2 separate regions of the Homo sapiens genome follow, and region 1 is linked to region 2. The links come from fine-mapping of genetic effects on gene expression. A gene starts in region 2. The other region holds a variant in brackets. All regions are shown on one strand. Distances are from middle to middle. Region 1 overlaps IL16 (interleukin 16). Region 2 holds the start of IL16 (interleukin 16).

What was found.
Region 1: its variant is fine-mapped to the expression of IL16 in whole blood (TOPMed, PIP 0.94).

The regions. Positions count from the first base shown.
Region 1 is chr15:81,302,539-81,310,872 of GRCh38, reverse strand. It overlaps IL16 (interleukin 16), which reads right to left. Exons shown (of 19, transcript NM_172217.5): 16 at 7,223-7,324; 17 at 4,707-4,965; 18 at 4,328-4,453; 19 at 1-2,268. The coding sequence ends at 2,075. It overlaps STARD5 (StAR related lipid transfer domain containing 5), which reads left to right. Exons shown (of 6, transcript NM_181900.3): 6 at 1-1,820. Among named protein-coding and RNA genes, the nearest start is that of STARD5, 17 kb to the left of the region's middle. RefSeq lists a silencer at 2,142-2,319 and enhancers at 6,522-7,052, 6,437-7,636. The variant C/T (reference allele first, on the strand shown) is at 4,976.
Region 2 is chr15:81,191,770-81,200,103 of GRCh38, reverse strand. It overlaps IL16 (interleukin 16), which reads right to left and starts at 3,225. Exons shown (of 19, transcript NM_172217.5): 1 at 2,952-3,225.

The sequences.
Region 1 (8,334 bases), 110 kb before region 2:
ATAACCTCTGTCCCAATCACTTGCTTTGCCTGGTCTCTCAAGGAGTCTCTTGGTACCCCAGGCCCACGGCCAGCTCCATGCTCATCCCTGTCCCCACCTTCCAGTCTTGATGAAAACCCACCTTCTCTTTCATCCCTTGGCTGCTTGATAAGACTTAAAACAATTCCCTGATTTTAGGGAAGGCCACTGCGTGCACAGATGGTGAGTTTGTGCAGGCAAGGAATGTGCCCTCCACATCACGTGGCCTCCTTGCCCAGCCTGGGTCATGGGAAGGGAGTGTTGAATTGAATCACGTCTTTCGTTGGTAGATTATGTTCATCTTCAATGTTTCTATTAAGTCTAAAAAGTGGATACAAATGGTGCCTCCAAGTTCTTGTCTAATTGCTTGTCTACTGCTTGACAAAATCCAGAATGGAATAGGCCAAACAAGTTAACCAGCAGGACAGAAACTGCTCTAAGCCCATTATTCCTTGAGATGAATAGAACAGTGAGCTGAACGCCTGCTCTAATGAAGCCACTAAAGGGGTTTACAGGAAGGTTAGGAGCCCAGATGGGTTTTGAGTCCACTGCTGGGAAACAGATTCTTCACTTCCTGTGGACCCTGGAGAAGCCATCAGATTACATTAACATGGCTCCACTGATGATGGCCTGAGAATTACTATTGTTTGTGTTTCATCTGTGTCCTTGCCAGGTCTTCCCCCACATCCTTACTTCACAGGATCAGGGGCTGAGAGGAGACCAATACTCTGGCCCAGGCCTGGTCAAGGGATGCTGGTTGTTGCTGATGCAAAGTCACATTGCCTGGTCCTGAGCTTGGCAATCAGGCATCCAGAGATGGCCAAACCAAATATCCCTTTGGCCAGGCACTCAGGCATTCCCTGTAATGTTGTGCACTTAAAGCATCTTGGGCTGATAGTCTCCACCGAATCACAGAAGAAAACTCAATCTGCCGCATCACTCACCAGCTGGATAAGCCATTTACTGTACACAGTGTGTGCCCTCTTATCAATACATTGGCACAGAACCATACACCGTAGAAGCTGCTGTGATCACTAAAGGCAATGCCCGTTTAGCCCTGAGCACAGTGCTTGGCATGTGGTAGGTAAGTAGTAGCAATTTTATTTGATACCCTCATATACACGCTGGTTCCTTCTGTCGGCACACCTGTCCACGCTTTGAGCTTGGTGCTTCACCTGTACTCCTCTGTTTACTGGCTCCACCACCCTTCCCTAGGATTACTTCTCCAATCCAACCAAAAACAATTTTGCAAATGTTTCATGTGACAAACTGTATTTTTCATAAATGACCCCAGCAATATTTCCTCTCCCCTTAAACCCAGGCAGGTTTGTGTCAGCTCTAACTGATGGAGTATGGTGGAGGTGATGCCATGCAACTTCCAAGGCAAAGGTATAAACAAGATGCAGCTTCTACATGGCTCTTGCGATCCTGGGATGCTCATCCTGGGAATCCAGACACCATGTTGTGAGGAGGCCCAGGCCACAAGGAGAGGCCACCTATAAGCATTCAGGCCAGCAGCCCCAGGTGAGTTCCCAGCCAACATCAACGGCCAGATGTATGAGTGAATGATCTCACGTGGTCCCAGCCTTTGCATGACTTTGCATGACGCCAGCTGATGCCAAGTGGGACAGAGATGAGCTGCCCATTCCAATCTCTGCCCACATTGCAGATTCATGAGAAAAATAAATGTCACTGTTTGGGGGTGAATCATGACACAGTTACAGTACTTGAAACATTTTGCGAAGCCAGGCATGAATGTCATATGAAATTCTAATAAATCCATTTTATTTGTGGCACCACAATATTATCATTAAGCTCTCTTTTTACACAGTCTGCAATTTGTATCAGCTGCCCCCGTGTGACTCTGCCCTTATTTTAGGAACAACCTTTTGCTGGGTGGCGTCCTAGAAGGTCTGGGCCTGGGCAGCAGCCACTGGGAAGCCCACCTGTGCTTTCCCCCATCTGGGTGGGGCGGCAGCAGAGACCCTGAGAATCAGCGGTTATGGGAGCTGTGTGTTAGCTGTGTGTTATTGGCTTTGGCTTCAGCATGTCCTGCCTAGGAGTCTCCAGCAGCTGTGGTTTCCTTGGACTGGAGGCTTTTTCTCCTGATGACAATCGTGACAGGTCCATCAGGCAGTGCCTTGATGATGTTCCAGGCTTCAAACCGTGTGAGGCCCTGCATGGCAGTGCCACCCAGCTGTAAGATTTCATCTCCAGGCTGGACTGTCTCACTTTGTTCTGAGGCTGCTCCTGAAATGAGGGAGAAGGTAATGGGTTCCACAGATGATGGGGAACAAGGAAAGTTGCCTCCTCTCCTTGATCTCCAAAGAGCCAGGATAGCTTGGTAGAGAACAGGGCACCATCCCTTGGGAGCTTGCTTGTTGGTGGTTCTAAAATGAGGCATCTCTTAAGATGGTGACTCAGAGGTTAGGGCACCAGGCTCCAGCTCTCCATGGCCTTTGGAAAGGGATAGCCCTTGCTGTCCCCAGGGGAGGGAAATATCAGGCAGCTCCACGCCTTAGCCTGCCTGGAGCACCGTCCATAGTTCATAGAGGACTCTGGGGAGCTGAGTCCTGCCCAGACCCTGCTTTGGACACTGACCCAATATCCTACTCCCTTCACATTTGTTCTCCGCATGTGGTGAGGACATCAGCATTGGGTGGTATGGGAAGAGAGCTAGTGAGATTTTTGTGCAACAATATTTACAGGGATCTTGCCTCTGGCACGAAGTCCTCTGTGTCCACATAAAAAAGGAAACAACCATATATGGCCCCCACTATTTCAAAGCTGCAAGTGAAAACAATGCTATTTTACTGTTTATATTAAAATAAAATTTCCCATCCATTTGACACAGTGATCTTCACAAATCCTGATAAGAGTAGAAGATAATACTAATGATAGTAATGAAAATATAGCTAAAGTGTATTGGGCAATTATTTTAACAGGCGTTGTGCTAATGTTTTGCATTTATGACAGTAATCCTATGAGGGGTGTATTATTTGTGTTTCCTTTTAACAGCTGAGGAAACCAAGAACTCAAGTAACTGGCCCAGAGCTTCATAGCTGCTAGTGGTGGGCCCTGGGCTGGAACCCAGACTTTCTGGCTCCAGAATCTGCATCTCTCCTTCCAACATCACCCTGCAGCTGGCAGTCTCATCCTAAACATTTAAGCAAATGGGCCCATGGTGGTGAAGTGACTTGTCCAAGATCATGCTACCAAGGTCATGTGGCAGAACTAACACTGGAATCTAGTCCTCTTGACATTGAACCCAATGCTCCTTCCAAATTGACCTTCAAAAATTAGAAATATCTTTCCCAGAATTGGGGTTAACATGGATTCTGGGGGGAATGCCATGTAAGCCTCACTCTACCTTCTGGGTTTCTGCAGCCGCAGCAGAACTTCCTCTAACGAAACCAGTCAGCAGCAGGAGCTCATAGTGGGTGAGGGACAGAGCTAAGAGTCCCTTTGGGTCTCAGTCCTAAGAGCCCTCAGACACACACCTGTACCTCTTTACCTCCTTTTATGGATGAAGAGCCTCAGGCCCAGAAGGGAAGGGTCACTCAGCACATTACAGGCAGAGCTGGGACTAGAACCTGGCCCACCTGCCTCCCTGTCCAGTACTCCTCTCTCTACAACCCCTTGCTCTGTGGCTTGGAGACCTCCAATTTGAGGAACACCAAAGAATCAGGGATGGTTTTACATGGTAGCCACAGTCATTCATGATTTTCACAGGGAAATCCAAGTGACCCCCATATCAGACTGGTTTGTACTCCAATCCCTGATGAACAAAATATCTATCAACATTTTAAATAAAGGCAGGAGCTGACGTGTCCAGGACTAGGGTAAGGCAAATGAGGCCAAGTGTGCAGTACAAAGTCAGACTCTGTCTTGATTTAAACTTGGATATTTTGTCCAACATGTTTTTTTAAAATTAATTTTAAAAAACACGCTGCATTAAAATAGTATCGATCTGAGTTACTGAGTGTTTTGGCACCCCTTTAAAATTCTGCCCCACAGGCCAGTGCCTCACTGCCCCACTCTAGAGTCCTGGCCCTGCCAACCCGAACCAAGCCCAGGACTTAGGTATTTTTGAAGACCCATCAAAACAGAGGGGGGATTGAGGGGATGTCTGAGCAAAGGAGAAAAAGTAGAAAAAGCAGAATTGAGCCCTAAAAGGACCAGCATGCCTATGAAGAGGACATGGAGTTGTGGGAAACAACATAGCCCAGAAAGTGCCCAGAAGCCTTTTGGGGGCCTGGCCACATGCCCACAACTGGAGAGCACGCAAAGAACCAGACACACCCCACACCTTTGAAAATCCTGTTAATGGTGAGAGGCTTGTCTCCGTGTAGGGAGCCCTTCCCTCCTTCCAGGCTGAAGCCCAGCCCTGCCGACATCTTCTCCAGTGTCACCGTGCAGACTGTGGCCTCTGCTGCTGAGAAAAACACAAGGTCTCTGTTAGGGATCCTCTCCTCTCCCAGGCCACAGATGCCCTGGGCTTCAAGTGAGCCCGGGGTGATACAGCCCCCGTGTTTGCACACAGGCACATGTAAACACGTCTCAGGCAGTGTACTAGGCAGCCACACATTCTTGGGGTCACAAATTACTGAGTAGCCCCATCAGGTCTGGCCCCAAATGGCCAAAGAGGATGTGGCCCATGTGGCTTCCACTGAGTTGGGAGAACTTACTAGATTCTACAGAAACATCACTGGCTGCAGAGGCTGAGGCTGCAGAGTCAGTGGAGGAGTTGAGGTCGGGCATGGCCTCTGGAGTCAGCTTCCTTGTGACAATCACAGCTTGCCTGGGCTCTCGAGCTTGGCGGAGGATGGCCAAGGCATCATGGTGCGTGGTCCCCTTGAGAGACTTGCCGTTGATGGAAAGAACCTCATTGCCCTTCTGAATAGTCCCTTCCTGGGAGGCCAGCCCATTTGGAAACACTCTGTGAACCTGAGCAAAC[C/T]AAAGGAAGTCAGGACCAGAAATCACACAAGTCCAGTCCACATACTTGCTGGAGGAGGATTGAACCGGTTAGTCAATGCTAGAGGATTTTTAGGCCAACAAAGATTAAAGATAATTGTGTCCTAGATTGGAGCTGCTGGCACAGAGGCCAGCATTCCCTCCTTCTCCATCCAGAGCAGAGATCACCAGCAGTAATGACCAGGTAAGCCCTCAGAATCCATCCCAACACAACGTCCTATAGTGTACCACCACGATTCTAGTTGGGATTCCATATAAAATCTTTTGCTTCACCTGCCCTAGGTCAGAAGTCCCCAGAGTAGTTTTCTCAAGGCACTGATTCTATGGCATATTAACGGGTATTGTGTAAGAAAAAGGCTTTTCCTATTATTTTTTAAAAAATAGAGACAGGGTCTCCCAGTGTTGCCCAGGATGGTCTCAAACTCCTGGGCTCAAGCAATCCTCTCACCTTGGCCCCGCACAGTGTTGGAATTACAGGTATGAGCCACCACACCCGGCCAAGAAAAATTTTTTAAAATCAAAGAAACTTGAGGAATACTGGGTGAAACAAAAGCTCTGACATTGTCTACTTTTAAAAAGCAAAAGGCATTAGAGGGTCTACAATGCAAATTTGCATGGCAGCAGATTTCTAAGCAAAAGGCATTTAGAGGGTCTACAATGCAAATCTGCATGGCAGATTTCTAAGTATTGGCAGGGTATTATGGGGATTCCCAAAGTGTTTCAACAAAGAATTCTTTTCTCATAGAGAAATTCTCGGTCTCATTTGGCAGAATGCATTTTGAGAAACACTCTCCTAGGCAGTCTAGACATTTTTATAGCTCCTCCCCTAGAAATTCTGACTCTTTACCTCCAGTCACCTCTTGGTCCCCTTTCTGCAAGATATGTGGGATAAACAAACACACAAAAATATCTCATGTCTCTGCCTCAGCCTCTTTAATGAGGTCCATTATAATTAAGAGGACTGAGTGATAGCATGCATGGAAACCACTAAAATGTGGTACCTGTAGTTTTGCTTTTATGATAGGAGCAAAGCTCTTTGCTTCTCTAAATTGTTTTGGTGTTAGAAAAATTCTGTTACATGGTTAGAATCCCCAGGCTGTAACATCCAAGCATGAAGCAGAACCTCTCCTCTGAGCCTCAGGTTCCTCAATGCTAGAGGATTTTTAGGCCAACGAAGATTAAAGTTAATTAAAGGAGGAACCTCAGGTTCCTCCTCTATAAAAGAAGCATAAATGCCACCAATTTATCAATCCAAAGTGTGGGTAGGATGAATTTAGACAACAGGTCAGTGAGTGCTCAGCATGGCCGTGGATGGTGCTCTACGTTAGTTCCCTTTTAATCATCTGGAAAGGAAGAGAAATGCTCAAACACAGAAGGAGAAAGAAGCTTTTGTGCATGTGCTCAGCCAACATGTGCGCCTTCCTCCTAGTTTCCTGTTGTCTGCAGTGTCTCAAGGGTGACTGGCCAGATGACGTGGACAGAAGTTGCTACTCATGGACAGAGAAAAATACCCAAAGTGCCATTCCCACAGGCAAGCTCTCTTTCCTCCTCTTCAAGTAGAAAGTAAACTACACGGTCAGGAATCTTTTTGTAATACTCAGCTGCACTCAGTGAGAGAAATAGAGACTTACAGGTTTTAAGTGTTTTTTATGTGATAGAAAACTTATCAGGAAATCAAGGAAGTCACCACTGACATGATTGACTCTGAAGTGACACGCAGGAACATGCCAGATTGCCACTGCAAGGGGGTGTGGTATGTTGAATGCTGGCTGATGCTGTGAACTGGAGGATTTGTTTTCAGTTGGGCATGGAAATTCAAATGAGCCCAGCACAGCCTACACAAAGGATACCCTGAGACAACACAGCCCTGGGATGACAGCAATGCACTCGGCTTTAGAGAGCGAGCAGCCGCAGCATGGCTCCACAAAACTGGCAGAACCAGAAACCATCTGGGTCAGGTACAGGTGACCTGAAGGCAGCAGCCAATGCTGATCAGATTGGATGAGCCAGAATAGTGGGACCCACAGGAAAAGATGCCCATGGCCAGGCCTGCTACCCTCTCCACGCAGCCCCAGGCTCTGGGATGTGCTGAGTGGACAGGACCTGCCCAGTGGCCTAGTGTCATGCATTCTTCATTTCCCCAGCACAGGGCCCCTTCCTGGCAAGTGTGTCCCCCTCCCCCAGAACCATTGCCTCTGGCTGTGACATGCCCCTTCACTTGGCCACTCACCGTAATCACCTTGTTTTCTAGATCTGCTCCTCCTGCCAAGCTGAACCCAAGACCAGCACCTTCCTCCTTGTGTAAGATGGTGACATGGATGCCGTCTAATTGCTGCAGAGGAAATACATACATTCAAAAACATTTTACTGCAAGAGGATGAACAATTTAACATCGGACTGACATCAGACTGATTTGTTATCTCAAACCCCAGCTTGGCCAGCCTCCAAGTTACATCACCTCCTCAAACCTCAGTTTCCTCATCTGTAAAGAATGGACCTTCAGGAGTCATGGGAAGCTTAGAAGAAAAAAAAAATGTATGTAAAGCAGCAAGCATAATTATTTTCCTCTCTCATTCACCCTGTCCACAGCCGGGCAGGGGGAGTGCCATGAAGTCAGCCAGAAATCAGCATATTGGACAGTGTGAGATGAAGTCAGGTTGTAGGACTTCAGGTAAAACAAAACAAAAAAAAAAAACAACAAAAAACAAAACAGGGGTCAGTGCTGTTCTGCAGGAATTGGTTGCTCCTTCTTCCCTTCTACTTCTCCATGGGTCACAGCAGCAGCACTAAGGAAGCCCAGCTAACATCCTGCCCCAATGCACAGTGTGCAAGTGTGACACACACACACACACACACACACACACATTACTACGGTACTTCCTAGCCTAGACGGGGACTCCCATGGAGCCAGGACACAGTCAGAGACTCCTATTCCAGTCTAGAGCAGGGGTCTCAAACTCAGATGCCTATAGGAGTCAGGCAGGTCCCTAAAATGAGCCAAATGGGCAGATGTGTGATAGGAACTGCAGAGCGCCAACGAGTACATCTGCTCAAAGGGTCAGCTCTACGTAGGCATACAGAACTAGCGCTACCAGATCACTTCCCTAAAGTCCAGGTTTCAATTCAGGTTTTATCATGTATAGAATTCAATATTTTTTTCATCACCATGCAGACCAAATAAAGTACACCTACAGGTTCTTGGGGCACCTGTTTGTACCTTGGCACTAAGGAGTAAACTTATGTCAAAGAATTCACTTGCTCAGCGTCACTAGAGCACCTGACTTGCAGCTGTCCCTATGATCCTAAGACTTGGAGCCCCTAAGACCCAAAGGCATGGAAGGA
Region 2 (8,334 bases):
TTCTTTTTTTGTTTTAGAAAAAGGAAGTTGGTTCCAACCCGCTAAGTTGATTTTCAATCCACTAGTGGGTCATGCTTGAAAACCACTACTTTCAGGTTTTCTCTGATTTTTTACAGCAATTCCATATGGGGTATTTGCTTTGATTCCTCATTTAGCTCCCTTCTTTGGGCCACTGAATCTTGTCATATGTGCATTGATTTTGCCGCATTTGCTCAGCCCTACTCAAGAGGTCTGTGCTTACTCAGATTCGGGAGCTGGGATGAGTTCTGAAATTCCTCGTTGGAATCTTTCATATGCCGATGCCAGACTGCAGAAAGGGCTTAGATTTCCTGTGGCTTTTCTTTGCCAGGTGAGAGGTGCAGTGAGCAGCAGGGAAGGTGCACCATTCCCCAGCATCCAAGTTCTCAGGGGAGCCTTGAACCTTTGGAAGGGATGTTTGTAGGTGACCGCCTCCTATTGGCTGAGCAAGGTAGCCATGTCTTAGCTGCTGTAACTGTCCACTGGAGGAGCATTTCCATCCCAGCTGCACATGCCAAGACTCAGCCAGGGGCAAGACCGATGGAGATCTCCACGCGGGATCCCAGCATCGGGTCACTGTCCAGCATTACCAGTTGCTCCCACTCAAAGCAAACCTCTCCTCCAGCATCTCCAGATGTGGCAAGAACAGCGCCTCCCTCCTGATGGGCTCCGCCCTTCCACCCAACGTCCTTCACATCCACCTGAGACATCCACTGAGACTTCTCAGTGTTTCTGGCACACACTGAGCAACACTGTCTAGTTTACAAGACTGACATAGATTCGTCCTTATTTCAACAGGAATTCAAAAGAAGAACTTGAAGTAAATTCCTGATTTCAAGCTGCCTTCCTAGTTAACCACAACTCCAAGTTCTTGGAACTATTTGTTTATTTTGCCCCATGCCTATTTTCTCCCCGTGTTTATGAGCATATTGCTATTCACAATGAATTGCTTTTTAATAGCAAAACGTAACCTATATATGAAAATGTATTACCAATTCAAATGCACAATAAAAAATATGTATTTTATATATATATATATATATATATATATATATTTTTTTTTTTTGAGATGGAGTCTCCCTCTGTCACCCAGGCTGGAGTGCAGTGGCATGATCTCGGCTCACTGCAGTCTCCGCCTCCCGGGTTCAAGCAATTCTCCTGCCTCAGCCTCTTGAGTAGCTGGGATTACAGGCATGTGCCTCCACGCCTGGCTAATTTTTGTATTTTTAGTAGAAACAGGGTTTCACCATGTTGGCCAGCCTGGTCAGGAACTCCTGACCTCAAGTGATCCGCCCGCCTCGGCCTCTCAAATTGCTGGGATTACAGGCGTGAGCCACTGTACCTGGCCAGTAGATTTCAATTCAAAGTGTACCTCCCTCCCTCTCACTCCTATACCCCTGGGCCACTGCTGGGAACCAGAAAGGGGGAGGGGTTGACAAAAGGGCAGGTCTCAAGGTCCTGGTCTGCCTCTGCCAAAATAATTCTGCCTTAACTGATTATACATGAGTTTTCATGATAGATTTTAATTCTAAAAAGGTTTCCATGAATACAAACAATTAGAAAATAATAATTCTATAGTCAATTGCATCCAACAGAGATTATTTTTTAACCCTATGGATATATGACCATCTTTGTGTTGAGGAAACTCAAGTATTTATTGAGGCATGCCACAAAGCCAGTGAGAGCATGGATTTTGGAGTCAAGCTGGGTTTGGGTCCTGGGAACGTCTAGCTGAGTGGTCCTGTGCAAGCCTCCTCACCTCTCGGTTTGGGGATATACTCCCTAAGCTCCAGGTTGTTGTAAGGTTTAAATTAAATGAGGTATGTGAATATTTTAGCTTGGTGCCTGGGGCTTGAAGAGTGGCCAGGAAATGGTTGGGGTACTAAGTTTTATTTAAAAGACTCACTGGGGATTGAATAAATGAGCAGTAGAGGCTTCAAGGGTCTGACCCACCTGACGGCTCATGCCCACGTCATATCTGCAGCAGGGGAGGTGCCTTCTACTGTGCTCGTAAATGTTGACCATCACTTAACTTCAGGGTAAAGAAGGAGAACAGAGGAGGAAAAAGGCTGAACGGTCTTCTCCTTCCGGGGGAAACTGGAGAAATAGGAAGGGGAGCCACAGAGACGGCAGCTCCCAGGCTGCTTCCAGGAACCCAGTGGGAGCTTGAACTGGCCTCCTGGGACAAAGGGGTCGTCTTTGTATGGCTCAGCCTGAAGTGGGAGGATTTCACCTGATAAGGGCAGGAGGAGAAGATGCTTCCCTGTATTCCACAGGGAACCTCTATTCTTATGCTGTTACCTCATTCTCCAGCTACAGAAAGCAAACTTGCTATGGACCAAAAAAGAAAAAAACAAACAAACAAAAAACAAAAACAAAAAAACACCAATCCTGGGACCTACCAATGCAGGAATTAGTCACGGGACCCTTATCAAAAAGCAAGCAGAGTGAACACTTTTCCCATGGTCAATCTGCAGAGATGCCCACCCGCTGTGCCCACTTTGGAGAAAAGGAGTCTGGCCAGGCAGCAGAGAAGCCCCCATCAGGTGCCCCGTGGCCTTTCTCTCTCCTGCTGCCTTCCTTTCCTCCACCTCCTTCCACACCCCATTGCCAAGGATGAGACGAGGCTGAAAAGTCAGAAATCTCAGGACCAAATTCTCCCCGTGCTGCAGAGCCAGGTCAAGCGATATCCCTCTGCCCGCTCTGGCCTTCTGAAGCTGCTTCCTCCTGTACCTAACTGTGACATGGTGACACAGAGATTCCTACCAACACAATCCTGGCTTCTGCTCCTGCCCCTGACCCCAGCACCACTTCCAAATATGAAGTTACGTCCTAGCAACCAAGACCCTCCCCATTCAGGTCAGAGAGGCCAGCTTCCTCCCTCCGGTAACGGCCACCTGGACAGAGCAGCTGCCTGACAGACATTCACTCACCTGGTGCCCACCTACCTCCCTATGCACAGTCCCCCGGGGCTGCCATCTCCCTTGCTCCTCTCTCCATCTGCCCAGCAGGGATTGCAGCACCACTTATTCCCGGACAGCCTGTGGCCCAGGCCTGGGTCAGAGCCGGCAAGGATTGAGAAATGGACGCTCAGTTCTCAGACGGAGGCCGGCCTTTGAGTCAGATCCCAGGCTCCGATAGTTGAGATGCCGTGAGTAGGACACAATATTCACCACCTGCTCTGGACAGGTGACTCAGGACAAATGTGTCCCACCTGGCATGGATTTGCTCGAAGACTCCTGATCTGAGCCATCTGACTGCTCCACGTGAAAAGGCTTGATCCAAAAAGGGGGGCTGCCAGTGCTGAGAAGCTCAGCCTCAGAACAAGGTCCACCATCTGCTGGGCTGGCCGGCAACACCCAGGAGGCAAACCCAGTGCAGAGCCACAGAACCACAGTGAGGTTCCTTGGTCCAGCCCAGTTGCCCCTGCCTTCTTTGGACAACACAGAAATGACTAGGAGAGCCGAAAGGTAGCAGACATGACTCGGTGCCTGCAATGTGCCTGGCACGCTGCTAGGAGCTTTCTATAAACCTCATCACATGCTGGAAGCTGTGGCACGTGCCTATAATCCCAGCTACTCAGGAGGCTGAGGCAGAAGGATCACTTGAGCCGGGGGATTCAAGACAAGCCCGGGCAAACCATAGCAAGAACTCCTCTCAAATTATATAAAAATTTAATAAAAAGAGGAAAAAAGTCATCACATACAATCCTGCCATCAATCTGGTAAATATATCACCTGCTTTGCAGACAAAGAAAGCCACTGCACAAACGTTCATTAAACACCTACTACGTGCCGTGGAATTTCCCCAAGGTCACACAGTTAGCAAGTTAGCAAGTCAAAATCCACCTGTCTCCAAAGCCCAGGCTTTTTCCATAGCATTTCATTTCTTGTCTGTGCCACCCTTTCCCAAAAACAACAGACTGGCTCTCAGAAGCTTATGTAACTCAGTGGTCCTCAAGCCAGCTGCATCAGCAGCATCTGCTAGAAATGCAAGTTCTCAGGCCCTGGCCTAGACCTCCTGAAGCAGCACCTCTGGCACTCTGTTTTCACAAAGCCTCCAGGTGATTTTGGTGCGTGCTCAGGTGCGAGAGCCCATGACCTAACGTATACAGAGCATGTTGAAAACTGCAGCATAAAAGAATGGGGCACTTTTGTGTGTGTCCTGTTGGCATTAGTGTCATGAGACCAGAGTGCCTTTCCCCCACGTAGCCCCTTGGAGAATCTAATCATAAGGTGGCATTTAATCCATCTGCCCCGCAAAGAGCATCCCACACATCTCTCCTAAGCTCAGTCTCTGTGAGCCCTGTGTACATGCTAGGCTGAGGTTTTTGTATGGACCTCTCTTCTAAAGAATGGAATGTTTCCCAACGCTCAGCACCAAATGTTTCAGGGCTTCCTGGGGGCTTTAATGAGGGTGTAGGTGCAACCTGTAGGAAGCCCTTGAAATTCCATGCAAGGCTGCAAAGATCTAGCCGCTGCTGCTGGAGAACACAGGCCCACGGTCCCAAGGGAAGCACGGGAGGAGGGAGCACTCTGGGGATAAAGCTGCCTTTGTCAGCAGGCACAGGGGACATTGTAGGGCTGAGTCTGGAGTGAGTCTGGAGTGCAGTGAAGGAATTTCTAAATTGCAGAGAGTGAGCGCCTCTGTCAGTGTCGCCTGCTCAGCTCACACCCACAATCTCTCTCACAATGGCCTGGGTGCGGTGGGGCCAGGACAGACTCAGGCCCCACTTCCATCTTGCTCTGGCAGAGAGGCTGAGGAGCAATTCAGCACCCCAGGGCTATGGGGGCTGGCCTTGCCCTTCTTGGATCCTGAGGCCTGGGAGGGCCCCACAGCCCCCCTCCTCCACTAAGTCTAAGCTCTCTCTTGTCATCGGCACCTGAATCCAGTTCCCGCCTCTCCCTCTATTTTCCGAAGATCTGTTCTTTCTCACTCTCAGAAGGTAAATTTATTCCAAAGTGTAGTTGAGACTTGGCCCTGATTTTTCCTAATACGGGGTGGTTTGTGCTTCAAGGTGGAAATTTTATCACCCCTCTGCCCTTCAGGACATCCTGCAGAAAGAGTCTCCACCCTGCCCAACACTCCATAGTCCAGCTCACTGCAAGCCAGAAGAGACGGGGAGGAAGACGCAGGTGAGAGAGCCCCGCCCTGGTTAGAACTAGGAAGTTCAAGCACCACTTGAAGCTCAACCAAGAGCTTCCTGTGTGATCTTGGTCATTCACAGCCTTAGTTTGCTACGATGAAAATTAGATGAAATTAATTGTCTGCCAGATGAAATTAGAAACTTCTACTGCACAGTGTTACTGAGAGAATGAGGCAATAGAGGAGGAAGCATGCTGCCAACAGCTAACCAAGCAGAAGCCTGCTCACCTTTTTGGCCCTTCCAGCCCACGGAACTGAGAAATCTGTTCAACAAGTGATTCTGATGCTTGCTAAAGTTTCATAATCAATAACCTGTATTTCCTTCTAATTCTCCTATTTTTTAATTACAAAATTTTATTTCCAAAAGTAAATTTTTAATTACAAAAATTTTAATTACAAAATTAAAATTATAAATTTTGAAAAATTAATTTAAAAAATTTTAATTTTAAAAATTCTAATTTAATTTTTAAAAATTAAAATTACAATTACAAATTTAAATTTAATTTAAAAAATTAAAATTACAAAAATTTTTAATTTCAAAATTTTAGTTATAAAAGTAATACATGTTTGTTGTGGCAAGTAAACATATTCAGAAGGCAAAAAGAAAGTGTGTCCTTAAAATGACACAACAGGGTCATCTCCTATTCTGTTCAAACAATGGCAAAATAAAGAGCTTAGGGTCAGAGCAATAAGCCCCAGCTTCTGTACTAAGCGGCTCTGTCAACTGCAAGTCCTTTTACCTTACTGAGTCTCAGTTTCCATGTCCACAAAATGGAAACAATAACCCAATAATCTGACAGGGCTGCTCAGAGGTCTGAGCAAAGAGCTGTCCTGCAATCTATAAAATGCCTTGGGAATTCTTTATGCTGTACACTTTTGGTCATGCGAACTGTATTATCATGAGCAGAATATAATTTAACAATTTTAACTAGTAATGTAACAATTTTAACTAGTAATGTAACATGACGCAGAATATAATTTAACAATTTTAACTAGTAATGTAACAATTTTAACTAGTAATGTAATGTTACTAGTAATGTAACCTGACAGTAATGGACATGATGATAATAAATTCTCTCTGCATTTAGCACTTTCAACTTAGACAGAATGTTGAGGCCAAAACTTGATGATTTTATTGTACGTCCCCACTTACGGATGCAAACACTGAGACTCAGAGAAGTTACATGTCCAAAAAGTGCACGTCCAAGGCTGTGCAGTCAGAAGCCATTGGTCCCTTGATTCCCGCTCCCCGGCTCTCTTCCCCTCTTTCCCTGGCCCACAGCAACATATAGATTCAAACCAAGGGTTTTAACTTCATACGAAAATTCTAGCTGACTTCCATGTAGACCATGCTGCCCTCTCTCTGGCCTTTTTTTCTTTCAAACTGTCCATCAGGCTTGCATCCTTTCAAAGTAATATTCCATCACTAAGATACTTACAATCACGACAAGCAACTGAAGCCAGTCCACAAGCAAATATACCACGCACATGCCAACAACTCCCAAATTCACTTCTCCAGGCCTGGACTTCTCCTTGAATTCTGACTCTTTTTTCCTACCACTTGCTTAACATCTTCAGCTGGGGTTTAACTTAAATTTCAAAAGTAACATTGCCTGGCTGTTATTCAGTGAGGCAAAAAAAAGGAACACTGCCAACAGTACTCTTGATTCCCCCCCTAATAAAATGTTTCTTCCCTAAACTTCCACATTTTGGTAATTGTCACTAGCATCCATCAATTTCCCAAGCCAAAATCCTCAGTATCAAGGTGGGAAGAACATAGCACAGGCTCTGAAGCCAAAATTCCTGGGTTCATCTCGCAGGTCTGTCCCTGCCCAAGTGCATGATCATAGGCAGGCAAAAAGGCACTTCTCTGTGGACTGGTTTTGTCATCTATAGGCTGGCTAGTGCACTAACATCCACCTCACAAGGTTTGTTTGGGCTAAATATGGTAATACTTGTAAGGTTCTTAGAACAGTGCCTGCCAGAATAAGCCCTCTGTGAGTTTTTATTCATCTTGATCCCTCCATCTCTCTAACCTTCCACATCACATCCAATTTATCAGTGATTCTCGTTGGCTCTATCCCCAGAAGCTATCCCACTTTCTTTCCGCTTCTCTCCATCTTCACTGCCGCCACCCTCCTCTTACCAGTGCCTCTTGTCTGATTATAGCTTTCACCTTCTAACTGGGATTCTGGTTCCTATGCAGACCTTCATAATCCATTTTTCACATAATAGCAGGTAGGCTTTTTGAAAATATAAATTGGATCAGCATAAAATTTGCAAGGGCTTTGAATTACTTTTAAAAACTGTTTTTTGTTTGTTTGTTTGTTTTTGAGACAGCATCTTGCTCTGTGGCCCAGGCTGCAGGGTAGTGGTATGATCATAGCTAACTGCAGCCTTAAACTCCTGGCTCAAGCAATCCTCCAGCCTCAGCCTCCCGAGTAGCTAGGACAACAAGCACATGCCACCACATTTGGCTATTTTTTCTTTTTTCTTTTTTTTTGTAGAGACACGGTCTCTCTGTGTTGCCCAGGCTGGTCTTGAACTCCTGGCCTCAAGCAGTCCTCCTTCCTTGGCCTCCCAAAGTGCTGGGATTATAGGCATGAGCCACTGCACCCAACCACTTTTTTAAAAATTTAATAAACTTTATTGTTCTGAGCAGTTTTAGCTTTACAGAAATATTGCATAGAAAGTACAGAACTCCCGAATACTGATCTCCCTCTCCACACACACAATTTCCCATACTATTAACATCTTGCATTGGCGTGGTACCTTTTTACAATTGATAAATCAATACTGATACATGATTATTAGCTAAAGTTCATGGCTTACGTGATGGTTCACCCATTGTGTTGTGCAGTTCTATGGGTTCTGACAAGTGCATAGCGTTATGGATCTACCACTGTAGTATCAGACAGAGAGATATATTTACTGCCCCAAAAATGCCCTGTGCTCCACCCCTTCCAAAGGCTTTGCGTTGTTTTCCAAAATAATACCCAAATTCCTTACAGTGTCCCAAAGGAGCTAAATGATCTCACCCTTGTTTATCTCCCAAACTCCAGCTTCCACCTCTGCCTCTCCTGCTCGCTGCATCCCACAGCCACCCTGGCCTTCTGGCTCTTTCTTGAATAAGCCATGCCCTTGTCACCCTAAGACTTCTGCCCTAGCTGT